7 linked regions of the Homo sapiens genome follow. Changing the gene in region 1 together with any one later gene gives a genetic interaction. Each region holds a gene or a part of one and is shown in the gene's direction. Other genes may lie near its edges. The genes, in order: GFI1B, TIMELESS, ASCC3, TIPIN, MED9, NDUFA8 and REXO2.

Region 1 (3,494 bases):
GTTCAGAGAGGTTAAGTCACTTTTCCAGGATCAGACAGCAAGTAGATATCAGAACCAGCATTCAAACCCAGCTTCGGCCAACTCCCAGCTCTTAACCACTGGGCTATTCAGCCTCTAGATGAGGCAAGGAGGGGCCTCCAGATCCCCTCTCTCACATCCAACTTTGTAGAAGGGAGACTGAGCCACAGAGAGGCAAACGGACCTCCCTGGGACACACAGCAAGCAAGCAGCAGAACTGGCAATCCAGTGCCCCTTACTCTGTGTACCCAGCCTTGGCCAGAGCTGGGCATGGAAGAGACCATGGGACCCCAGGCCTGTCCCTGTCACCGCAGCCCCCAGTGGCCTCACATGCTGCCCCTGCTCCCAGGTCTTCTCCACCCCTCACGGGCTCGAAGTGCATGTGCGACGCTCCCATAGTGGGACCCGGCCCTTCGCCTGTGACATCTGCGGCAAAACCTTCGGCCACGCTGTGAGCCTGGAGCAGCACACGCACGTCCACTCCCAGGTGGGCACCTGGCCCAGCGCAGGACTCCCAGCCCCACTCCTTCTCTGTGCTTCCCCAGGGAGCCTGGGGGCTGTGGCTGGGTCCCTCCCCCTGCCCCTGGGGGTGACACAGATTGGGAGGGGTCCCCTAGTACCCACCTCCCTGGGTCTGGGTCTCCAACACCTGCCCTTAACAAACTTCAGACTCTTAACTAAACCACCGTGCAGACCACAACCATCCCTGCCTCAAGGAACTCACTCTAGGTTAATGGTCATGAAATGTGAACCCCTAAAGAACCTCTGAGATCAGTCAGTCCATCAGTCAATCAACGAACATTTATTGAGGTTTATTTTGAGCGGGATACCGTGAAGATTACAAGGAAAAATCCCACAGGAGACCAATGAGACTCCAAGCCCCAGTTTCACCTCAGAGGCAGAGATGAGGGGTCCCCCGGTCCTGCTCCTCCAGGCCGCCCCAATGGAGTGTCCTGTTCCGCAGGGGATCCCGGCCGGGTCCAGTCCTGAGCCTGCACCTGACCCCCCGGGGCCTCATTTCCTCCGGCAGGAGCGCAGCTTCGAGTGCCGCATGTGCGGCAAGGCCTTCAAGCGCTCGTCCACGCTGTCCACCCACCTGCTCATCCACTCAGACACGCGGCCCTACCCCTGCCAGTTCTGCGGCAAGCGTTTCCACCAGAAGTCCGACATGAAGAAGCACACCTACATCCACACAGGTGAGTGAGTCTCACCTGCCTGTGCCCCCTGGGCAGAGCACCCCCACCTTTCCCTGAGAGATGCATCAGAGGCCCCCAGCGTGAGGCTGGGGGCGGGGTCTAGTTACAAAGTCAAAGGCCACTGCTGATGGAGGGCTGGGCACCTGTGCTACTTAAGTGCACTTAATGCATGGAAAAAAATACAGGGAGGAAACAGCAAAATCTCAACACTGTTGATCTCATGGCAGACATGAGACTAGCAGGCGAACTGCTCATTCATTTGTTCACTCATTCACTCACTCACTTGCTCATTCATTTGTTCACTCATTTGCTCATTTATTCACACATTCGCTCACTCATTTGCTCATTCATTTGTTCACTCATTCATTCATTTGCTCATTCATTTGTTCACTCATTCATTTGCTCATTCATTTGTTCAGTCATTCATTCATTTGTTCACTCATTTGCTCATTCATTTGTTCACTCATTCATTCATTTGTTCACTCATTTGCTCATTCATTTGTTCACTCATTCATTCATTTGTTGATTCATTTGTTCACTCATTCACTCATTTGCTCATTTATTCACACATTCGCTCACTCATTTGCTCATTCATTTGTTCACTCATTCATTTGCTTATTCATTCCTTCACTCATTCATTCACTTGCTTATTCATTGCCTCCTTGCTATTAGCTGAGTGCCTCTTTTGTGCCAGGTATACCAGGCTTGGAGATGTATTGATAAACAAGATGACTCGGCAGCTGCCCCTAACCACCCTATAATCCAGTAGGGGTGGAGGAGGGTCCAAGTTGTATCTTTGCTTCTCTCTCTTTTCTAATTATTTTCTAAAGTGAATGTGAGTTGGCCATGAGAGAAAACACAGGAAGGTATTGGAAAATGAACCCGGGGGCAGGGCAGGGGAGCAGCAGGCCTGGTGAGGAGGCCCTGACCCCGCCCTTGCTGTGCTGCGCTGCCCTCCCTGCAGGTGAGAAGCCGCACAAGTGCCAGGTGTGCGGAAAGGCCTTCAGCCAGAGCTCCAACCTCATCACCCACAGCCGCAAGCACACAGGCTTCAAGCCCTTCAGCTGTGAGCTGTGCACCAAAGGCTTCCAGCGCAAGGTGGACCTGCGGCGGCACCGCGAGAGCCAGCACAATCTCAAGTGAGGCTGCGCCGGCTCCCAGCTCCTGGCCAGCCTGCCCTGCGGTCCTGTCACCTGGAGGCCAGCCTCACATGCCCAAATCTCCAGTCTCCTGGAGGTGGGACTGGACAGGAGTCTACCAGCTTGTTTTGAGACTCATGAAATTGCTGTGTGACCTTGGGCAAGTCACTTACCCTGTCTGGATCAACATTTCTCCTGCTGCCAAGTGTGGGAGCCTGGCTGGGTCTTTCTCAGCAGAAGTTGTTTCCAGGTGTGCTCAAGTGCCTTCCTCTAGCAGAGCACAGAAAGCTAGAATACCCCCAGGGAGACAGGGATGCCAAGAGTAGACCAGAGCTGGGACCCACAGACAGAACCTCCACCTGCCTGCTGCCCACTGAGCTGGGACCTGGTCACCTTGGATTTTAGCCGGCCTCTTTCTGGCTATAACAGGCAGAGTCGGAGCTGCCTCCCACCCCAGTCAGAAGCCTGGCACCCCCTCTGCTTCGGCCAGATGTGCTGGCTGACTCCGACTTCCGACCAGCACTCAGCTGGCCTCTGGGGATTCTAGCTCCACAACCAGGCCGTGAGGCTGGAGAAACTGGCAGTTATTGCTGTCAAAAGCCTGTTCTCTCAACTGCTGTCAATAAAATTAAAGATACAGATTTGCTGCCATGTGACCAGCATTTATTAAGTGCCTATGAGGTCCAGGGTACTGCACGAGGCTTTGGGGAGTGATGCGGGGAGGCTTGAGGAGCAGAGAAAGCCATGGAGGTGCTCATAGGCAAGTTGTGGAGAAGTGTACTCAGCCCCCACGTGCACAGACCCGCTGACGAGCCAGGAGCAAGCAGAAGGGGCCCGTGCGACAAGACCACAGGGGTGGGCAAGGCTAGTGCAGCTGGGGCGGTATCCGTTTCCTGTGGCTGCTGTGACAAATGACCACAAACTTAGTGGCTTAAAACAACACACATTTATTCTCTTAAATTCTAGAGGCCAGAAACTCAAAATGAGTCTCATGGGGCTAACATCAAGGTGTTAGCAGGACTGCATTCCTGCAGCAGGCTCCCAGGAGAGTCTGTTTTCCTGTCTCTCACCTTCCCAAGGCCGTCTGTGCCTCTGATCTTGGCCCCTTCCTCTGCCTTCAAAGCACATAACTTGGATCTCT
Region 2 (3,500 bases), on another chromosome or scaffold:
ATGATGCTGACTGACCGCAAGGAAGCTGCCTCCTGGGCACGCCGGTGAGTGGGATGGTTACTGGAGATACAGTGAGCTAGGGATCTGAATGCTTGAATTCTGGCTGGTGCTTTTTTCCTGATTCAGGGTTCAGGTGATCAGTCTGGGGAGCAAGGACTGGCTGGGAAATTTAGTTTGGGTGGCACATTTTTTTTTTTCGCTGTGGGAAGTTGCTGTTTCCATGGGCCATTGCCCTAAGCTGTCCTCCATTTCACCGTTTCCCGTCAACTCTCAGGATGCACTTGGCTCTGAAGGCCTATCAGGAGCTGCTGGCAACAGTGAATGAGATGGACATATCTCCAGATGAGGCTGTGAGGGAGAGCAGCCGCATCATCAAGAGTGAGGCCCTGGCCTGGTCCCCGATCCCAGCCTGTCCCATCTCGTGATGAGAATCTCATTCTTCCCAGTCCCAGCTTCATCCATCTCTCCTTTTCAAGCTTTCCAGAATAGCCCTTCCATCCCTTTCTCTTCCCCATTCCTAGACAATATTTTCTATGTGATGGAGTACCGAGAACTATTCCTGGCACTTTTTCGAAAGTTTGATGAGAGATGCCAGCCCCGCTCTTTCCTTCGTGACCTGGTGGAGACCACCCACCTCTTCCTCAAAATGTTGGAGCGATTCTGTCGGAGCCGTGGGAACCTGGTGGTGCAGGTACTGGGCAGCCCCACAATGTAGAAAGAGCTGTAAGGGAGAGTCAAGGAAGGGGGGCTCTTTCTTCTCACAGTTTGTACAGCTTAAGTTCATCTGTTAAACGTGCTCTGAACTACGACAGCAAGAGGTTTGTGGGTGTTGGCCAGTGTGAGTCTACTACAGTTTCCTTCTCCCATTAGAATAATCTCTGATCTGCCATAAATATTTTAGTTCAGTCAGGAAACATTTATTGAACACCTACCACATGCCAAGTACAAAAACCCTGGGGATTCATAATTTTAGAGTCTAATAATTATGCTATAGCATTTTCTGGTTATACCTTGAAAGCATTGTGGTGAGGTGGAAAGAGCCTTAAATTGCGGCCAGGCATGGTGGCGCACACCTGTAATCCCCGCGCTTGAGGAGGCCAAGGTGGGCAGATTACTTGAGGTCAGGGGTTCAAGACCAGCCTGGCCAACATGGTGAAACCCCGTCTCTACTAAAAATACAAAAATTAGCCAGGCGTGTTGATGCACACCTGTAATCCCAGCTACTCAGAAGGCTGAGACAGAATCGCTTGAATCCAGGAGGTGGAGATTGCAGTGAGCCAAGATCATGTCACTGCACTCCAGACTGGGTGACACAGTGAGACTCTGTCTCAACAGCAACACAAAGAGAGCCTTAAATTGAACTTTAGAAAGTCTGGAATCTAGTCCTGTATTGGTTATTATTGGAATAAGCTCAAGCTGGTCGTGTCGGTCTCCAGATCCATAAAGTTGGGATTGTGACAGTTGTCCATGAACCCAAAGTGGAATCAGTGAAAAGCCTAGGACAGGCTGGGCACAGTGGCTCATGCCTGTAATCCCAGCACTTTGGGAGGCCACAGTGGGTGGATCATTTGAGGCCAGGAGTTTGAGACCAGCCTGGGCAACATGACAAAACTCCTTCTCTACTAAAAATACAAAAATTAGCTGGGTGTGATGGCACGCACCTGTAGTCCCAGCTATTTGGGAAGCTGAGGCACGAGAATTGCTTGAACCCATGAGGCAGAGGTTGCAGTAGGCCAAGATCATGCCACTGCACTCCAGTCTGGGCCACAGAGCAAGACTCTGTCTCAACAAAAAACAAAAACAATTCACCAGCATGGTGGCACATACCTGTAGTCCCAGCTGCTCAGGAGGCTGAAGCACGAGGATCACTGGAACTTAGGAGTTTGAGGATGCAGTGAGCTGTGATTGAGACATTGCACTCCAGTCTGGGTGAGACCAAGACCCTATCTCTGAAAAATAAAATTATTGGTTCACATTAAAATAAAAAAAACCCTGGGACAAAATGCAAACTCCAAGGAATTTGTATCCTGGAAACACAGAGACTTTGCTTTGTATAAACAGATTTTGGGCCAGGCGCGGTGGCTCATGCCTGTAATCCCAGCACTTTGGGAGGCTGAGGCGGGCAGATCACTTGAGGTCAGGAGTTCACGACCAGCCTGGCCAACATGGTGAAACCCTGTCTCTACTAAAAATACAAAAATTAGCCAGGCATGGTCATGCGCACCTGTAATCCCAGCTTCTTGGGAGGCTGAAGTGGGAGAATCACTTGAACCCGGGAGGCGGAGGTTGCAGTGAGCCAAGATCATGCCATTGCACTCCAGCCTGGGCAACAGAGCAAGACTCCGTCTCAAAAAACAAACAAACAAACAAAAATTAGCCTGGCGTGGTGGCACACACCTGTAATCCCAGGTACTTGGGAGGCTGAGGCAGGAGAATCGCTTGAACCCAGGTGGCAGAGGTTGCAGTGAGCCGAGATCACGCCATTGCACTCCAGCCTGGGCAACAAGAGTGAAATTCTGTCTTAAAAAAAAAAAAAAAAAAGATTTTGTACCAGAACCTTCCTATAACTCTAGTTGCTACAGCTTAAAATTCTGTCATAACTGGACTTGAAAGATGCAGTAGTACCAACGAGACTTTGCTAAAGGGTATTTTTGCACTCAGAGCTCTGTGGTATTATCTGTAATACTAGGTACTATCATTTATTGAGCATTTACTGTGTGTCAGACACTGTGCTGACGTTTTCATGTAATCCTCACAGTAGCGCATGTGCCCAAAGTGGTTAAGCAACTTGTCCAAAGTCTTGTTAGTAATACTAATTCAATACTCAAATCCAGATCTGCTGGACTCCATGCTCCTAAGTTTTGGTGTGTTTGATTGTAAGTTCTTTAATGGAGCATGACCTTCAGGGGCCTCTCAGTTCATCCTGTTTGACTTTTCAGTACCCACACCAAAGACTGGTTCACAGCCCTGACTTGGGAGAAGCAGGATTTGGGTATTGACTCACTCTCCTGCTTTTCTTTTTTTTAATTATTTATTTATTTATTTATTTTTTTAAGCAGGGTCTCGCTCTGTTACCTAAGCTGGAGTGCAGTGGCTGAATCTCAGCTCACTGCAACCTCTCCTTCCCGTGCCCAAGCGATTCTTCTGCCTCGGCCTCCCAAGTAGCTGGGACTACAGGTACACACCACCATGCCTGGCTAATTTTTGTATTTTTTGTAGACACAGGGTCTCGCTGTGTTGCCCAGGCTGGTCTTGAACTCCTGACCTCAAGCGATCCACCTGCCTAGGCTTCCCAAAGTGTTGGGACTACAGGTGTGAGCCACTGCGCCTGGCTGTCCTACTTTTCAGGAGAAAAAATTAGAGGCTTTATTTACATAGTGCTTTGCATTTTATGAAGCTTTTCCATGTGTCTTATTTGATCCTCATAGCATCTGCTTATTCTGTAGACCTCTTGAGATAGCACTGCTTTTGGCAAACCTCTGAACTCAGGAAATGGGTCA
Region 3 (3,500 bases), on another chromosome or scaffold:
TCAGTATGATATAGAAATAGGCATAGAGTGGGGTAGAACGTGGTTTTTGGTGAAGAAATTCTTTTTGGCTGGAGCAGGAAATATATAATAGCCAATAAGACTGGAAAATAAAATGCTGGGGTCAGCTTCTGGCAGTGTAGGAGCTTGGATCAAGCTATAGTAAGCTGTGGAAGATTTGTGAATAATGATACTGGAGTCATGTTTCCTTCTTTTTTTTTTTTTTTTTTTTTTGATAGAGTCTCAATTCTGTCACCCAGGCTGGAGTACAGCGATGCTATCTCTGCTCACTGCAACCTCCGCCTCCTAGGTTCAAGCGGTCCTCCTGCCTCAGCCTCTCGAGTAGCTGGGATTACAGGTGTGTGGCACCACACCCAGCTAATTTTTGTATTTTTAGTAAAGACGGGATTTCACCATGTTGGCCAGGCTGTTCTCGAACTGCTGACCTCAGGTGATCCACCCACCTCGGCCTCCCAAAGTGCTGGGATTACAGGCGGGAGCAACTGCAGAGTCATGTTTTTTAGAAAGATACCAGTATTCATTACATTATTAACTTTAACAGTATTTAGGTAAGTCACATAGCTTTTGGGGCCTTTTGAAGATTTAAATTCTTCTTTTCTTCTCTAAGAATATTCTTTGAAACCCATGTCAGAAATACAGATTCTTTTTTTTATTTGAGAAAATTGGATATGAGAAAATGCCTTAAATAAATTAGAGGCTGATTCTTCTTATATTTACTTCTAGCCTCTTTTAAACAGGAGCTTTCTTTTTTATTTTATAATATGACTAACTTTATCTTCAGCTTAATAAATATCCTTGATGGTATTAAATGTTTTTGAATGAGAACTATAGAAGTATTTCTTGCCATCTCAGGTTTATGGTACAAATTGGAAAGAAAATTATAGATATTTGAGGTTTCCTTGAAGCTCCAAAAGTCTATAATTCAGATTGTTTTCTGTACCTTACTTTGGTTTATTTAACTAGCTCATCAAATCAATCTTTAAAATTAGTTTTAAAGTGAGTTTTAGCTAGTGTCTCAAGTTGTTTTTAGAAAGAAGCTGTAAGGATTGTTACTAGGTAGTTTCTGCACTTAGATACATAATAATTACTGATAATGATTTATTTACCTAAAATAGTTCTTTGGGAAATAAATAGTTCTTCAGGAATGGGTTGGTTCCTGCTCCTTAAATTGGCTATCTGTCTTTATTGTTATGTTTTTGTTGTTTTTTTTACAAGGTCTCACACTGTTGCCCAGGCTGAGTACAGTGACACAATCATGGCTCGCTGCAGCCCCAACCTTCCAGGCTCAAGCAATCCTTCCACCTCAGCCTCCTGAGTAGCTGGGACTACAGGTGCACACCACCATACCTGGCTAATTTTTAAAAATTTTTGTAGAGATGGTTCTCACCATATTGCCCAGGCTGGTCTTGAACTCCTAGACTCAAGTGATCTTCCTGCCTTGACCTTCCAGAGTGTGGGGATTATATGGAGCCATTACACCTGGTCTATTGCTATGATTTGACTGTTAGATTTACTCAGGAGAATATTTGTGGTAATTTTTTGGAAGATCGTAACTTGAACCATGATTCAATTGAGCTAATACTGTTTCTTTTGTCTTTGAATAGTTGGAACTGATAATGGGAGAGAAGCAATTGAAAGTGGGGCTGCATTTCTCTTCATGACATTTCACTTGAAGGACTCTGTTGGTCACAAGGAAACAAAGGCTATCAAACAGATGTTTGGCCCCTTTCCTTCATCATCTGCCACTGCAGCTTGTAATGCTACTAATCGAATTATTTCTCATTTTAGTCAAGATGATCTTACTGCTCTTGTGCAGATGACAGAAAAAGAACATGGCGATAGGGTTTTTTTTGGTAAAAATTTAGCATTTTCATTTGACATGCATGATTTGGACCACTTTGACGAACTGCCAATAAATGGTGAAACTCAGAAAACTATAAGCCTAGATTATAAGAAGTTTCTGAATGAACATCTCCAGGAGGCTTGCACCCCAGAACTCAAGCCTGTGGAAAAAACAAATGGCTCCTTTTTGTGGTGTGAAGTTGAAAAGTACCTAAATTCAACTTTGAAGGAAATGACTGAAGTGCCAAGAGTAGAAGATCTTTGCTGTACTTTATATGATATGCTTGCTTCTATTAAAAGTGGTGATGAACTTCAGGATGAGGTATAGTTGAAATGATTTATTTTTTTATATTAATGTGAACTATCCTAATGAAATAGTGTTTTTTAAACATGGGTGGTTAGCAAAGAAAGTTCTTTAATGTTCTGTATAGTAGTTGAATCTATAGCCAAATGGTTTCACATAGCAGGCCTGTATATACGTTCCTAATGGATAGTTACAGGAGGTCTGAAAGTGTAATGAGTGTAGCAGAGGAGTAAGCAGACAATAGTTGGGTGTCCACATGCTCTGGTTACTGGGACAGTGCTGGTTTGATGTCAACTTAATTTTAATACTGGACAAATTGAATGAGTAATATATTTCATGAAAGATTAAGAGGGATGGCCTACTGTTGTAGAAAGGACAGGCTTTGAAATCAGTTTGTTCTTCCCTTTCCACTTACTGGTTGTGACACTTTAGGTAACTTAATCTCTCAGAAGCTCAGTTTTCTTGTTGGGCTATCTCAAGGAGACACCAATATCAAGATAGATAATTGTTATAAGGATTGAATGTGATATATGCAAAATGGTAAGTAACATGTTAAATAATCATTATGTGGTAGCTGTGATTATTTTTGTCGTTATTATTGGAATTAAGAATTTTTAAATCACATTGAGTATTGGAAATACAGAAAAAATACTAGCTGTATTTTTCAGAGAAAAATTAATTTAGAGAATTAGCTAAGTAGGTATTGGAGGACTTAACCCATAGGTGTTATGCCAACTAACATTAGTTTGGAAGTAAGATATTATATCATTAATTCTGTGATCAGTCTTTTTACTGTGAATGTTTTACACTTGGTTTAATTTTTATCAGATCTGTTCTCACTATTAAATTTTCTCTAACATTCTGAACATAATATTGTTTTAAAAATTGTGATTTACGAAGAAAATTTTACTAATATTTGCTCATCATAATTGAATACATAGTAGTTATCCAATTATGATTATAATAAACTGAAATTTATAAATATCTAATTAATGGATATTTTATTTTCTTAGTAAGCCATAAAACCATTACTTTCACTTCTGAATATCTATAGTAAGTTTGTATTTCTTAGTCTTTCACCACAATTTTAAAGTATGTAACTGAATCTGATTGTTGGAAGGGGAGTATTTGTGCTAGATTTTTTTCATAATAGCTTCATTTGTCATATATTTATTGTATGCTTATTGTATTGCTAGGTACAGTGCTATTTACTGAACATAAAAGGATGAATAAGATAGCAAACTTGTTCTCAGAATTAATTGTCTAGCAGGAGGAGACATGTCAACAAGTAACTGTACTGAAATATCATAGGTATTATAATACTACATGCAAAGAA
Region 4 (4,141 bases), on another chromosome or scaffold:
GTCAGCCTCTCAAAGTGCTAAGATTACAGGCATGAGCCACCAAGTCTGACCAAATAACTTTTTTTTTTTTTGAGACAGAGTCTTGCTCCGTCGCCCAGGCCGGAGTGCAATGGCATGATCTCAGCTCACTGCAACCTCTGCCTCCCAGGTTCAAGTGATACTCCTGCCTCAGCCTCCTAAGTAGCTGGAATTACAGGTGCGCGCCACCACGCCCGGCTAATTTTTGTATTTTTAGTAGAGATGGGGTTTCACCACGTTGGCTAGGCTGGTCTCGAATTCCTGACCTCGTGATCTGCCCGCCTCGGCCTCCCAAAGTGCTGGGATTACAGGCGTGAGCCACTGCACCCGGCCCCAAGTAACATATTTTTGACATTTTTTTTTGTTTACATTCACACTCTCTCGCTTTTTTTTTTTTTTTTTTTTTTTTTTTTGCGACAAGATCTCACTGTCACCCAGACTGGATCTCCAGCTGGATCGCCAGCAGTGCGATCCTAGTCACTGCCGCCTTCAACTTCTGGGCTCAAGCCATTCGCCTGCCTGGGCCTCCCAAAGTGCTGGGATTACAGGCGAGCCACACCGCACCTGGCCAGTGTCTATGTTCAGCCCTATTTTTCCTCTCTTTACCACCTCTTTTCTCAGCTTATTATTCAATAAACAATTCATAAAACTCTGAGTTCGAAGCATTCTGCTATGAACTCTGAAGAAGCGGTAATTTCTTATTCACTATTGCTTGCCTCTGTCCTTTTTCCTCCTCCCACAACTCAGTTTTCCAAAAACCGAGACCTATTTCCAAGGTTTAAAGTGCCGGGCACAGTGGCTCACGCCTGTAATCCCAGCACTTTGGGAAGCTGAGGTGGGAAGATCGCTTGAGCTAAGGAGTTCGACACCAGCCTGGGCAACTAATCCCCGTCTTTGCAAAACAAACAAACAAACAAACAAAAACCCATTAAAACAAAAATTCGGTGTGGTGGTGTTAGTCGGGGAAGGGAGGCTGAGGTGGGAGGATCGTTTCAGCCCGGGAGGTAGAGACTGTAGTCAGCCGAGATCGAATCACTGCTCTCCAGCCTGAGTGATAGAGCGAGACTTAGTCTCAAGAAAAAAAAAAAAGAAAAACCCCAGAATAACAAGTATTAACTTTATGCAAATAAGGAGGCTTAACTGAGTTCCTCTGAAGAATTCAGTAGGGCGGAAATTGTGGGACCGAAGGCGGGACCGGCGTGCTGGGCGGAACCTGAGAGGCGGGTTTTGCAGGCTCCGCCCAGCCCCCCGCACGGATTTGGCGCCAAACGCTGCGGGCCCTTCTCGCCCCAGGAGTTCCCGAGTATCGCGAGAAGCGCGCTTAGTCTGCACGCCGAGGTCCGCGCTGTGTCCCGTGTTTTCTGCGTGAGGTGAGAGCTGGCTGGCGGGCCAATGAAGTTCTTGCGGGGAGAGGGGAGTCGGACTAGCCAGGGAGCCAGATGGAAGAGCCAGGGAGCCAGACAGACTAGCGGGAAAGCCTAATTGTCGCAGGAAGGGGGTCAGGAGGTTGGGGGGTCGACCTGACCCGGCCTGGAGAGGCGGGGAGGTGGGCGCGTGTCCCGGTTGCTTAGGTTTTGGGATGCCTCTTACTCTGCCAAGCCGCTTAGCGGGAGGGAACGTGTTCCTGATCATCTTTACCCCAGGCTTCTGTCCGGGGCGTGTCAATGTAGAAATCCCCCAGCGAATGTTGGATGAATGAATGAAGTTGAAGAGAGGGTAGGCGGGGAACGAGGATGAGGGGGACGGCTGGAGAAGAGGTATGGGAGGTTCGATGTTTCAGGGATGGCACCCAAGGGGGACATCGAGGCAGCACGGTAGCACTTCCTTTGCGATGAGGGGCGTCTCTTTGGACTTCTTGGAAAAGAGGTGGGCATTGGAAACCAGGGTCTGGGAACAAACCGTGGTTTGGACATAACATTTGTTACCTTCACTCTTCTGGGAGTTGGAGAAGTAGAGGAGGAAGTTCAGACAATTTCATAAGTGTCTAAAAAGAGACAGTTATGCGACCATTGACGAGGAGTAAAAGTCGTCTATTGAGCATCTTATTCACTACAAATAGAAGAAAGAAATACCAGTTTCCTGACAAGCCCCACCCCATGCTTGGCCAGTTCCTGAGTACACTTAATATATTTTAGGTACTGTCATCAAACTCAAAGCTCGCTGTCAGCCTCAAAGGTCTGAACCCTAGTATAGATTCTTGTAGCTTGCTTGAAGTTACAGTGGGTCATGATCAGGAATTGATGCTTTGTTTTTGTTTTGAAACGGAGTCTCGCTCTTTCGCTCAGGCTGGAGTGCAGTGGCGCGGTCTCGGCTCACTGCAAGCTCCGCCTCCTGGGTTCAAATGATTCTCCTGCCTCAGCCTCCCGAGTAGCTGGGACTACAGGCGTGTGCCACCACGCCCCGCTAATTTTTTTTGTATTTTTAGTAGAGATGGGGTTTCACTGTGTTGGCCAGGCTGGTCTCGAACTCCTGACCTCATGATCCGTCCGCCTCTGCCTCCCATAGTGCTGGGATTACCGGCGTGAGCCACCGCGCCCAGCCGATGCTTTGCTTTTATATTTATGGTAACCGAAATTTAGAATTAGTGAGATTTTAAAGATCGTCTAACTCCAATTTGGGGAAACTGGAATTTTTTTTTGCATTCCATCATTCATCAAATATATATTGAGCACCTGGGGCCGGGCGCGATGGCTCACGCCTGTAATCCCAGCATTTTAGGAGGCCGAGGCGGGCGGATCACGAGGTCAGGAGATCGAGACCATCCTGGCTAACACGGTGAAACACCGTCTCTATGAAAAATACAAAAAATTAGCCGGGCGTGGTGGCAGGCGCCTGTAGTCCCAGCTATTCGGGAGGCTGAGGCAGGAGAATGGCGAGAACCCGGGAGGCGGAGCTTGCAGTGAGCAGAGATCGCGCCACTGCACTCCAGCCTGGGTGACAGAGCCCGAGACTCCTTCTCAAAAAAAAAAAAAAAAAAAAAAGATATATATTGAGCACTTGCTGTGTAACAGCATTGGGGTTCCAGCTGTGTAACACAGAGAGACTTAACCTCGTTGCCCTTTTTGAGCTACAGTCTAGTTTGGGAGACGAACAATAAATAACTGTATAAATAAAACCTGATATTGAAACTGGATAAGTGCCATGACACTTGTACTTGACACTATGAATGCTTACTAAAGAAGGATTTAGAGAAATTGAGGTAAACTTTTGAAAAGGTGATAGTTGAGATCTGGAAGATATTAGGAGTCAAGGAATAGCTTTTTCAAGACAGGAAATAGTATTTGTAAAGAGCCAGTGGCCTGAGGGATATAGCTCTTTCAAGGAAAGAAAAAGCATAGAGTAGTGTGAAGTGAGACTGGTGAGGTAGTAAGAGGCTGGATCACACAGGGCCTTGAAGTTTTGTCTTTATCTTAAGAGCAATCAGAAACCATTGAAATACTTAATCCAAGTGAGGTGATCAGCTTTATATTTTCAGATTCAGTCTAGATGTAATAGGGACAATTGAAGGAGACGAGTGGATGAGAGTAGTGGAGTAATGCAAGCAAGAAATGTTGGGAAGTGGTTATAGAGATAAGGAGAAATAGACAGATTCAAGGGATATTTAGGAAATAAGATGGGCAGGATCTGTGGGATAGGGGAAGGAATTGCTAAAGATGACTTGTAGGTTTCTGAATTGCATAGCTGGATAGATGTCATTTAATGAGTTAGGAAAATTTAGAAGTTTGGTTTTGTACCTGCTGAGTTACAGGTGCCTTTCAGGCGTTTAGGAAGTGTAAAATGGGAAGTAGTGATCTGGATCGCAGAGTCAAGGCCTAGGGTAGAGATAAAAATCAGGGAGTCATCTATAAATCAGTACTTATTAAAGCTCTGTGCATAAATGAATGAAGAAGCCCTAGGATGGAGTCTTGGATACTTAATGGCCGGGGTAGAAGATAAACCTGCAAAGAAAATCCAGGAGGAGTGCCCAGAAAGGGAGGAAAGCCTCAGCCTCCTGAGTAGCTGGGACTACAGGTGCGTGCCACAACACCTGGCTAAATTTTTTTTATATTTTTAGTAGAGACGGGGTTTCACTGTGTTGGCCAGGCTGGTCTCGAACTCCTGACCTCATGGTCCGTCTGCCTCT
Region 5 (3,361 bases), on another chromosome or scaffold:
ACTCTGTATCTAGCTCAAGGTTTGTAAACACACCAATCAGCACCCTGTGTTTAGCTCAAGGTTTGTGAATGCACCAATCGACACTCTGTATCTAGCTGCTCTGGTGGGGCCTTGGAGAACCTGTGTGTCCAAACTGTATCTAACTAATCTGATGGGGACGGGGAGAACCTTTGTATCTAGCTCAGGGATTGTAAATGCACCAATCAGCGCCGTGACAAAACAGGCCACTCGGCTCTACCAATCAGCAGGATGTGGGTGGGGCCAGATAAGAGAATAAAAGCAGGCTGCCGGAGCCAGCAGTGGCAACCCGCTTGGGTCCCCTTCCATGCTGTGGAAGCTTTGTTCTTTCACTCTTTGCAATAAATCTTGCCACTGCTCACTCTTTGGGTCCACGCTGCTTTTATGAGCTGTAACACTCACCGCGAAGATCTGCAGCTTCACTCCTGAGCCCAGCGAGACCACGAGCCCACCGGGAGGAACGAACAACTCCAGACATGCTGCCTTAAGAGCTGTAACGCACACCGCGAAGGTCTGCAGCTTCCCTCCTGAGCCAGCGAGACCACGAACCCACCAGAAGGAAGAAACTCCGAACACATCTGAACATCAGAAGGGACAGACTTCAGACGCGCCACCTTAAGAGCTGTAACACTCACTGTGAGGGTCCGTGGCCTCATTCTTGAAGTCAGTGAGACCAAGAACCCACCAATTCCGGACACACAAGTACATAAGGGTATAAGTACAAGATGTTCACTGTCATTCTAGTACAGTACAACCACCCATGAATAGCCAGGGTAATTTCGCTGTCTAATTGTATATGTGTTAACATGGAAGGACATCTGAGGTGCCTTGTTAAGTAGAAAAAGCAAGAATGAGAACTATGGATGGTCACATTTCTGTCAGAACAAATAAGAAAAGTTTGTGTGTTTTGTATGCTGTTGTACATTTCAAAGCCATCTGAAACAGTGGACACCACATGTTAGCAGAGGTTATCTCTGGAACAAGGGGTTAATGAGATTTCCCTTTTCTAAGCCTTGGTTGTCTCATTTTTGAATTTTTTCCCTCAAGTACCTATTACTGTCATTTTTTAAAAAAGTGATCTTAGAAAAATGAAAGCCACTGGAGTTAGTACCGTGCGAGGAGAGCCTGTGGGCAGAGGAATGGACTGGTAAGGGCTGGTCTGAGGGCAAGGCAGCTGGGACAGAGTGGAGTGTGAGGCACAGTGCATGGAAGTTGTGAGGAAGAAGAAATGGGAAACTGAGTCAGATGCCACCAAAAGGTCAAAAGAAATGACTGTCAGATTTGGGAGGAAGTCTGTGTCAGTGGTTCTAGCAGAGTTATTGGCCAGTTTGCATCTGTACTAAAGCATCCATGCTAAAAAGAAGAACAAAGAAAATCAGGGCATGATTCTCAGACACCTGCCTAAAACCCTGTGATGTTTGCCTTTGAGTCTGGTGACACGGATACAACTGTCTGTCAGACGTGGGAAGGATGCTCAGAGGATCACCCCTGGCGGTAGTATTTTTGTCCACTCTTTAAAAAAACCATAGTAGGGGGCTGGGTGCGGTGGCTTACGCCTGTAATCCCAGCACTTTGGGAGGTTGAGGTGGGCGGATCACCTGAGGTCGGGAGTTCGAGACCAGCCTGGCCAACGTGGAGAAACACCATCTCTACTAAAAATACAAAATTAGCCGGGCGTGGTAGCGCATGCCTGTAATCCCAGCTACTCAGGAGGCCGAGGCAGGAGAATCACTTGAACCCGGGAGGCGGAGGTTGCAGTGAGCCAAGATCGCACCATTGCACTCCAGCCTGGGCAACGAGTAAAACTCTGTCTCAAAAAAAAAAAAGAAAAAAAGAAACCACAGTACCACAGTAGTTGGGACCAAAGTGCTCTGACCTTGCCTTGTTTGTACGATGTTCATCCTCCTTGACCTAGTGGCTTTTTTCATTCCTTCTATAGTTGGCCGATGACTAACCTTGAACACAAAGGTAGGCCCACTTAGAGCTTTCTGCTTTTATTCACTCGGTATTTGGTCCTGTCCCTTTTCTTTTGGCTTGAATATTTCACAGTCATCCTGGCTTAGCAGATGCCCACTTCTGAATAGCATGTTCTCTTCACTCCAGGAGTTCCATGCTATTTACCTCCACCAACTAGGGCAGTTGGGCTTGCAGAGGGGCCTCCCTGTGGGCTGCATGGCCCCTTTTGGCTCAGCTGCCCTCCAGGCGGCTTGTCTTACAGCTCCTTTTTTATTATCTGAAGACTGTCTCCTTTCCTGAAAGTTCACCAAAGAACACGCAACCCTTGCTATTTGGGGGTTTTCAGAGATGAGCATCTTAAACATGACCCACTTTCAACTTTCAGAACTAAATTTTCTTTTGGGCCAGGTTATGTTTGCTTCAAGAATGGGATTATCTGTCATCCACATTTCTATTTTAAGTACTTTTTTGTTTGTTTTACCATGTCCTTTGAGACTCATGTGAGTCGGTTTTTTTAAAAACTATATTTTAATTTTAAAACTTCCTTGGGACTTAAATTCGTAACGGTATGTTAACACGCATGCCATCCGAGTAGAAGGATTTCAGAAGTGCAGATGGTTTCTGTCCACATTTGTGGATCAGAGCTGAGACTTCAAAGAATTAAAATAAAAGACGTTCCCTATTTGCTTCCTTCCAAAGGATTTTTAGTTCTCATGAATACCAGTTCATCCTCTCTAGAATCTGCGATAAGGTATACTGTTAATGGTGTCTCTCAGTTGAGGGCATCATTTCCTGGCCTCTCATTTCCTGGAAGAAGTGATTGATTCTCCATACCCTCCCTCTGAGTTTAGAGCTGTTGGTAAATACTGAGCTGGCCATGGTGGCCATCTGATTTGCAAGGTGTGAGACGTAACTGATGGATCGCCAGGAAAGATGGATATTCTGCCTGCGTAAGCAGAGAAATGATGAATAGTAAACATGAATTAGCACCATCTGGGTTGAAATTTCCCACTACGGATGAACATTTATTTGAAAAAATTAATGATCATTGACAGTTTTTCCCTCTTATGCCTCAATGGCTTACTTTCAGAACAGCTTACTGAATTGCCTTTTAGTTTTGGTCTCAACCACTTGTTTTCAAAAGCTCATCCACTTACTAACTTTTAAAAAACGTATAGGAAGCTGAGTGTGGTGGCTCATGCCTGTAATCCCAGCACTTTGGGAGGCCGAGGCAGGTGGATCACCTGAGGTCAGGAGTTCAAGACCAGCCTGGCCAACATGGTGAAACCCTGTCTCTACTAAAAATACAAAAATTATCCGGGCGTGTTGGCATGCGCCTGTAATCCCAGCTACTCAGGAGGCTGAGGCAGGAGAATTGCTTGAACCG
Region 6 (3,500 bases), about 11 Mb from region 1:
GACTTAGCAATGGATTAGATATTGGAGGTAGGGAAGGTTGAAGAATCAAAGTCAGATTTGCAGCGTGGCAATAGTACTGGTGAAGCCAGAAAAAGGAGCCCGTTTGGAGAGCGAGTTAAATACATTTTGGACCTCATTGGCTTAGGAGTTATGACACATCCCCATTGAAAAAGCAGTCAGAAGCTTTGGACTGGAAAGTCCTTGGACACATTTGATAATTTTGAGTAAAAATAAAAATAGCTAATATTTATGGTGTGCTTTCGATGTGATAGGCACTGTTCTTATTATTTTTATATATATTAACTCATTTAATCTTCATAACAGTTCTATTAAGTACTATTCTCTGTTTTACATAAATTTAGGAAAACTCAAGGCATGGTATAAATAAAGTACTATAAAAAGAGGTACAGACGTAGTTTAAGGAGACAAGGACAGGACTAGAAGGTTGATTGGCTCTAGATGGTGACTTTGTCTCAGTTTCCACACCTGCAGACTGTGTAGCCCTGCTGTGCAATGAGGCTGTTGTGAGAATAAATGAGAAGGATGTTGAAATTCTGTGTTGTTTGAGACAAAGAGATCTGAATGAATTTGAGACGGTATTCATGGTAAACAGCTGTGAAAGGATGTTGTTTCTGTTGGAATTCATCAGTCTCAGTGAAGAAGCAGGTGAGGGGATATGGTGACATCTCAGGCTCATCCACCTCAGTGATGGTGATATAATGGGAAGAAGCCTGGTTGGAGGTCACAATCTCTGTGTTCTAGTTCTGGGGTTGCCACTGACTCACTGTGTTGTCTCTAGCACATCCCTCTTTTTCATTAATTACGAAACAGACTCAATGTCTTCCTTTATTTTCCTGTGACAGGGATGGTGTTTTATATGCTCAGCAACATGTGTATACCTTCATTTTGATAAGATTTCCACATTTGTAGGGAAATAAATAATGCGTCAGTCTTTTTGGGCCGTATAGTTTTGGGCCTTTGAATAATTGAATCAGCCAGTTAAAGCTCTTTTAAGGCATATGACAAGTAAATATAACTGACTTAATTATTAAAATATATTAAGCTTTTAAAAAAGTTTGAGTGTTAGTTTTTATTCTCCTAGCTGTTTATAGGTAATAAAACAAGCAAATGTGTGCCAGTTTACCTAAATAAATTCTTTTATTTTCAAAAACTTTAATATGAAAACTTTACAGATTTTAAACATAAATTTATTAGAGTCATCATGGCAGATTTCACTTATGTCATAACTTTATCTTTGATAATTATAACAGTTGCACTATTAATAGACATAGTCATAACTTTATTCTCCTTTCTATAGTGTATAGATTAATTACTCTTGTCATCTTTCCTTGCCTTTTATTAATAACCTAGCTGCATAAAGTGCATAAAAAATAAAATTACAGCTGGGCGTGGTGGCCCACGCCTATAATCCCAGCACTTTGGGAGGCTGAGGCGGGAGGATCATCTGAGGTCAGGAGTTTGAGACCAGCCTGACCAACATGGAGGAACCCCGTCTCTACCAAAAATACAAAATTAGCCGGGTGTGGTGGCGCATGCCTGTAATCCCAGCTACTCAGGAAGGCTGAGGCAGGAGAATCACTTGAACCTGGGAGGCAGAGGTTGCGGTGAGCCGAGATTGCGCCACTGCCCTCCAGCCTGGACAAGAGCGAAACTCGGTCTCAAAAAAATAATAATAATAAAATAAAATAAAATTACAGACTGTTCTCACACAACAATTTTTAATTTTACAAATCAAATTCAGTAGAGTATTAAAGCATAATACACTGTGACAGACTAGATTTTATTCTAGAAATACATTGGATCAGTTTTACAAAATCTGTTAATGCTCTATGTTACATTTATAAATTAATGAAAACGAAGCCTAAAAATTTTAGTCTTTTCTGGTATAGAAAACAACAGTAAAGCAAAACTAATTAGAATTAGAAAGAAGCTTTCTTAACAAGGAATATCCAAACAACTATATTCCAGATACCAACAGCAAATATTATACCAAACTTGCTTTTAATTTTAGAAAAAGGGAAGGTTGTCTGCTGTCATTGCTCTTCGTCTGTATTGTCCTGAAGGGGTTGGTTAAAGCAATAAAATAGGAAATGAGAATAAGAAGAAAAAAATAAAGTAGCAGAAGGGAAAGAGACAGTTTTTATTTGTAAATGGCAGTTTTTCTGTTAATCTTCTTGAGTTTTGTGTCAGAACTAACAAGAGTTCAGTAAGATGGCTGGAGAGAAAATACAGTATACAAGCAAGCAGTAAACAGTTTGAAAGTCTAATAGAAAAACTATCCTATTTAGATAGTATCAAAAGTGCTAAAATACTGAGGAATAAACAAGAAATGTTCAAGGTCCCTATAATGAAGGAAACTAGTTTTAACCAAAGGACAAGAATGACTTGAATATGAATAAATGGAGAGAAATACTGTGTTGTGGATGAGAAGGTGTGATTGATGTATTCATATCTGTTTTCTAATTATTGTATCCCCATTTTCTAGCAAAGAGTGGGTGCTCAACAGCTACTTGTGCTAGACACTATTTTGGGTGCTTGGTGTGTACCGTAGTCAACATTATATTTAATTACCATAGCTTAATTTGGGGAGAATTGATATCTTTACAGTAGTGGATCTCTGTTGAAAACAAAATCCCTTCCCTCTGGGAGCTTATGTTCTAGTCACACACAGACCACTCAGGGGCTCTTAAAATTATTGAGAAAGATGTTAATGACCCCAGTGTAATTGGTGCTTAACACAGAAACTGTGCTTACAGAGAGGAAAGAACAAGTATGTCTAGAATTGATCAGACTTAGCACATGAATGCTAAGACCAGACCACATGAGTGACCACTGATGATAGCTTATATAAGATGATTAGAGAGAGGCTCTCTGAGGATGTGAAGTTTGAGCAGGCACCCAGTATTATAAAAACTGCCCATTGTTCCCTAATTTAACATATAACTAAATTTAATACAATTTGAATGCAAATTATTGGGGGAAGGTGTTCATCTGAAAGAATAGCCAAAAAAGTTTTGAAAAGGAAGAATGAGGAGGATGGTTCTCCCAGATAACAAAATGTTATCTTCAGTGACAGTAATTAAAACATTGTGGTATTGGTATAAGAAAAGGTAGTACAGAAAAGGGACCACAGGTCTCTTGCTTAAGCAGCTGTTTGTAGGCCCTGGACAGTTTGCAGTTCTCTCTGAGCTGGCTATATCTACACTGTGTATCTTCTCAAGAAAATATCACTAAAATACTATTGAGCAAAACTGGTGGGCATAGTTAAAGGGGTGGCAACCTTGGATACGCTCTGATTTTTAAAAAATTTGCAGATTTTAGTACTTTATTATTAGTTATTACTAGATGGACTATTACTAGATGGACTATTACTAGATGGACTAGATGCTCTTTGTGATCTCTTCCAGCCTCATCTTCTGTGACTCCGTAGTCCTCTGGGAGTTTTATTTATCCTTTAATTTAATTTAATTTAATTTAAT
Region 7 (4,261 bases), on another chromosome or scaffold:
CACAAAATTTGACACTCCAGGGCCTAAAGGTCCTGATGCTGGCCACCTGGACTCCTAGAAATGATAGACATTATAGCAGTCATTGCAGGAGATTAAAGACACCTGGATCAAAGCCCAAGAAGATGGCAGAGCAGGCAGAACTGTTTTAGTTCATTTTAAGTTAGTTTGCTGCATAGATTTGTTATAGGAGGACGAAATTTAACTTTGAGAACTTTTAAGAACAGAGTAGCAAGTTGTCATCATGCAGACACCTAATAGGTGAACTGAAATGCAGGCCGCATTTCATAAGAAATAAGGGATAATCCTTGGCCAAATTGTCAGAGGCATTTGAAGAGTAACCCTATCTTGAATAGGGGCTGGGTAAAATAACACCGAGACCTACTGGGCTGCATTCCTAGGAGGTTAGGTATTCTAAGTGCCAGGAAGGGATAGGAAGTCAGCATAAGATACGGGTCACAATAGACTTTGCTGACAAAACAGGGTGCTGTAAAGAAGCTGGCCAAATCCCACTAAAACCAAGATGACAAAGTGACCTCTAGTCATTTTCACTACTCATTATACAGTAATTACAATACATTAGCATGCTAAACGACACTCCTACCAGCGCCATGACAGTTCACAGATGCCATGGCAACCTTAGGAAGTTACCCTATATGATCTAAAAGCGGAGAACCCTCAGTTCCCGGTATTGTCCACCCCTTGTTTAGCATATAATCAAGAAATAAGTGTAAGTATACTCGGTCGCCCATGCCCCTGCTCTGCCTATGGAGTAGGCATTCTTTTATTTCTTTACTTTTAATAAACTTGCTTTCACTTTATGGACTCGCCCTGAATTCTTTCTTGCAGGAGGTCCAAGAACCCACTCTTTGGGTCTGGATCTGGACCGCTTTCCCATAAGAAAAAGAAGGAAGGTAACTAACTTTGACTGAACACCTGATACGTGCTAAATGATTTCTCAGACAAGATCTTATTTAAATATTTCTAAATGATTTGATGATAATGTTAATGGCCTTCTGGCCCCCAAAAGCACACTGCCTCTTGGTCCCAAATAAATGAGGAAAATATCCAGTTTGTGGAATAGAGGGGCAGGTAAGTAAAAAAAGAAAAAGAAATGCAAAGAAGGAAAGATATACATGAAAAAAATGTCATACAGAGATAATCAGCTCTTTTCCAACCAACCAAAGTAAGAGTTCTTTTTTAACTGCGCGGTTACAACTAACCAAAACTCAGGAAATAACTCCTGGAAGCAAACAAACTTAGCAGTGAAAAACAAGCGCGTCCAGTAACACCAGAAAAACACGTGGCGGGGGTGGGGCATCTGGTCGCAACCGCAGGTGAGACTCTAAGTCCCATCATTCCCTTCGGCAGCCAAGCCAGGCTGTTGAGGGCGAGCCGGCGCACCGTACGCTGGGACGTGTGGTTTCAGCTCGTGCGCCTCCCCGTGGGTTTGCGACGTTTAGCGACTATTGCGCCTGCGCCAGCGCCGGCTGCGAGACTGGGGCCGTGGCTGCTGGTCCCGGGTGATGCTAGGCGGCTCCCTGGGCTCCAGGCTGTTGCGGGGTGTAGGTGGGAGTCACGGACGGTTCGGGGCCCGAGGTGTCCGCGAAGGTGGCGCAGCCATGGCGGCAGGGGAGAGCATGGCTCAGCGGATGGTCTGGGTGGACCTGGAGGTGAGTGAGGTCGGCGGGGGGCTTGGGGAGGCGAGTGAGGTTTCGCTCGTGGAACCGAGGAGTCGAGCCCGTCCTGGGAGAGCGTTGGGGGTCTGGGTCTCAGGTGTGGCAGGTGAGCGCGGCCGGCCACGGGCGGTGCAGGGCAAGTCCGGAGGCAGGAGTCCTGCGGGTGTTGGGCGCCGTGCTGCGCTGTAGGGCTTCTTTCCACAAGGGAGGAGTCCTCCGTGTGGCTTCTTCTCCTCCCTACCCCTCCGCCCAGATGTGGACTTTTCCTAACGCTCTGGCGTCTCTGGGCTTGGGTCACTGGAGTGGGGGCGGGGGCAGCGGCTCTGTTCCCAGCTTCCCCCAACTAAATCCTTAAAGGACCCTAGGTTGTTAGGGCCAGACGGGACTCCGGAGATGACTCAGCCTTACCCCTCATTCCATAAGTGAGAACATTGAGGCCCACAGAAAGGATTCAACTCATTCAAGGTCGTGCTGTTAGTGAGAGTCTGAGTTGAGACCAGAACCCAGTTCCTATCCCTTCAGGCTTTCCATGCCCGAAACAAGGGCTCCTCCCACCGTTGAGCCTCAGTTTATATGAAGTGAGGATAATAACAGTAGTTTTTCCATTAGATTGTGAAGGTCCAGTGGTGTAATTAATGTGAAAACTTTGTAAACTCTGCAGAGACGTGGTGGTGGTAGTTATCCAACTCTTCCAAAACTGAGTGATGTCAGCACTCAGTTTTACTTACTTTGCATCTGTCCCGGAGTAGAATCTCAGTGCTTGACAAATAGCAGGCCCTTGGTAAATGTTTGTTGAATAAACGAGGACTCGTGTTTAGTACCTTCAGTAGTTGCCCGAGGAGCATTCTTTCTCTTCTGTTTCGGCTATGGATTACAAGCTGACTATGTTTGAGGGAATTCCTGTTAAATAAACTTGGGTAAAAGAGGCCAGAATGATGGCTTTGTGTGTGTTATATATTTATTTTTAATTGCAGATGACAGGATTGGACATTGAGAAGGACCAGATTATTGAGATGGCCTGTCTGATAACTGACTCTGATCTCAACATTTTGGCTGAAGTACGTGATGCCATGTAATACAGTCATACTTTTTAAAGGGCACTGGAAATATAACCATCATTTTTTCCAGCTTCTTTATTTAAAAAATAAGAAAGTTGAGGTCTATATGGGTTAAGGTAATGTGCTAGGTCATGGTAGGGGTGGTACTAGAACCAAAGTAATCCATCTCACAGCCTAGTGAAAATTAAAAATTAAACATTATTTTTTAATTAACCATGCCAGAAATTTACAGAAACATAAATTCTGTCGTTTACTGAGCGCTTACTGTATGCCAGCTACAGTTTCTGTGTGCTTTATATGTCTTTGTTCTTAGTTCTCACAGCAACTATAAGTTAGTTATTGTTATAATGCTCATTTGATGGATGAGGACACTTGAGCATAGAGATGTTGGGTAATTTGTCTGAGGTCCCAGTGGCTGTTTACTGGGGGAGCCAAGAGTTTAACTCAGGCTGTCTCAGTAAGGTGCTCCTAACAAGTAGGACAGCCAGCTGTCCTCCCATCAGATTTGGTGACTCGTGCCAATGTTTGCGTCTTTATATCATAACCTTGACTTTAACTTGACTCCATATTTACAATTCTGCCTTTTCAACTAGGACATGTGATTCTTCTAGATCAGTATTAAGATTTTAGAATTTCTGTTAGTGCACACCCGTAAAGTGTTCTGTTGTTGACAGATTGGGCATGATTAAGGTTTTTGCATGCTACTTCCAACTGAAACATTTAGCAAAACAAAACACACCTGCTGCATTTCAGCCACTCATGAAACATTTAATAAGGATGTGACACCATCTGGTAGGGGGTGAAATCCCTGACCCTGAATAATTCTGTTTTATACTGTCAGCAGTATTCAGAGCCAGAAACTCCAGAATAGGAACAAAGTAGGGATGTTTGTGGAAAAGAGAGTCTTGTTAAAATAAGTTCCTAGAGGGTAGCATTGATATGTTACTGGCACTGGATACATTTCGTAAATCTGCAGTTAACACTTTTGTTTGTTTTGCTGTGTAGGTAAAAGAGGTGAGGACGTATTTCTAGATTAATGACTGCGTTTGTGGAGTACCAGGCTTATCCTCCCCACATATCAACTGTAGGAGAATCATGAGACTTTGTACTTCTCATCATAACAACTTTTTTAACTTTGTATAAATAAAGCCCTGAGTTTTAGATTTGGTTGTTTTTTTCTGTTACTTGGGATTTATTGGAGATCAATAGTGAAGAGAAGTGTCTTTATTTTACCAGTCTAACTTACCCTTGGCCGAAGAAGAGTGTTTCCTTTAGACTGTTGATATAATGTGAAATACTGACAGTTTAATGGACCCGTAGGTTGATATGTACCCTGGAGGAAATTTGGGTATGTATTCACACAGCTGCAGATGAATGCAGCATTTGTAAATGGACTAAGTCAGATGAGGATAAAGATGTTAAAAAAAAAAAAAAAGCTTAGGGGCTATCAGTTCTGCAGTATGTTTTATTCTTTTATAAGAGTCTGAGAAAAATGTTTTATGCTGGTAGAAGAGCAGGCATCCTACT

Evidence for each region.
Region 2: changes in GFI1B (region 1) and TIMELESS together harm fitness more than expected from each alone (negative genetic interaction), as found in Homo sapiens cells (one large-scale study listed by BioGRID).
Region 3: changes in GFI1B (region 1) and ASCC3 together harm fitness more than expected from each alone (negative genetic interaction), as found in Homo sapiens cells (one large-scale study listed by BioGRID).
Region 4: changes in GFI1B (region 1) and TIPIN together harm fitness more than expected from each alone (negative genetic interaction), as found in Homo sapiens cells (one large-scale study listed by BioGRID).
Region 5: changes in GFI1B (region 1) and MED9 together harm fitness more than expected from each alone (negative genetic interaction), as found in Homo sapiens cells (one large-scale study listed by BioGRID).
Region 6: changes in GFI1B (region 1) and NDUFA8 together harm fitness more than expected from each alone (negative genetic interaction), as found in Homo sapiens cells (one large-scale study listed by BioGRID).
Region 7: changes in GFI1B (region 1) and REXO2 together harm fitness more than expected from each alone (negative genetic interaction), as found in Homo sapiens cells (one large-scale study listed by BioGRID).

What each region holds. Positions count from the first base shown.
Region 1 is NC_000009.12:132,988,694-132,992,187, forward strand, and holds the end of GFI1B (zinc finger protein Gfi-1b), read left to right. Parts: intron 1-367; coding exon 368-505; intron 506-982; coding exon of another isoform or gene 983-1,048; coding exon 1,049-1,214; intron 1,215-2,044; coding exon of another isoform or gene 2,045-2,064; exon of another isoform or gene 2,065-2,146; intron 2,147-2,178; coding exon 2,179-2,357; 3' UTR 2,358-2,994; downstream 2,995-3,494. UniProt on the Homo sapiens protein: Essential proto-oncogenic transcriptional regulator necessary for development and differentiation of erythroid and megakaryocytic lineages.
Region 2 is NC_000012.12:56,425,427-56,428,926, reverse strand, and holds part of TIMELESS (protein timeless homolog), read left to right. Parts: coding exon 1-44; intron 45-274; coding exon 275-378; intron 379-521; coding exon 522-691; intron 692-3,500. UniProt on the Homo sapiens protein: Plays an important role in the control of DNA replication, maintenance of replication fork stability, maintenance of genome stability throughout normal DNA replication, DNA repair and in the regulation of the circadian clock.
Region 3 is NC_000006.12:100,846,830-100,850,329, reverse strand, and holds part of ASCC3 (activating signal cointegrator 1 complex subunit 3), read left to right. Parts: intron 1-1,622; coding exon 1,623-2,182; intron 2,183-3,500. UniProt on the Homo sapiens protein: ATPase involved both in DNA repair and rescue of stalled ribosomes. 3'-5' DNA helicase involved in repair of alkylated DNA: promotes DNA unwinding to generate single-stranded substrate needed for ALKBH3, enabling ALKBH3 to process alkylated N3-methylcytosine (3mC) within double-stranded regions.
Region 4 is NC_000015.10:66,353,886-66,358,026, reverse strand, and holds the start of TIPIN (TIMELESS-interacting protein), read left to right. Parts: upstream 1-1,341; 5' UTR 1,342-1,388; exon of another isoform or gene 1,389-1,884; intron 1,885-3,905; exon of another isoform or gene 3,906-4,029; intron 4,030-4,141.
Region 5 is NC_000017.11:17,487,000-17,490,360, forward strand, and holds part of MED9 (mediator of RNA polymerase II transcription subunit 9), read left to right. Parts: intron 1-3,361.
Region 6 is NC_000009.12:122,153,280-122,156,779, reverse strand, and holds part of NDUFA8 (NADH dehydrogenase [ubiquinone] 1 alpha subcomplex subunit 8), read left to right. Parts: intron 1-3,500. UniProt on the Homo sapiens protein: Accessory subunit of the mitochondrial membrane respiratory chain NADH dehydrogenase (Complex I), that is believed not to be involved in catalysis. Complex I functions in the transfer of electrons from NADH to the respiratory chain.
Region 7 is NC_000011.10:114,438,006-114,442,266, forward strand, and holds the start of REXO2 (oligoribonuclease, mitochondrial precursor), read left to right. Parts: upstream 1-1,461; 5' UTR 1,462-1,523; coding exon 1,524-1,670; intron 1,671-2,650; coding exon 2,651-2,734; intron 2,735-4,261. UniProt on the Homo sapiens protein: 3'-to-5'exoribonuclease that preferentially degrades DNA and RNA oligonucleotides composed of only two nucleotides. Binds and degrades longer oligonucleotides with a lower affinity.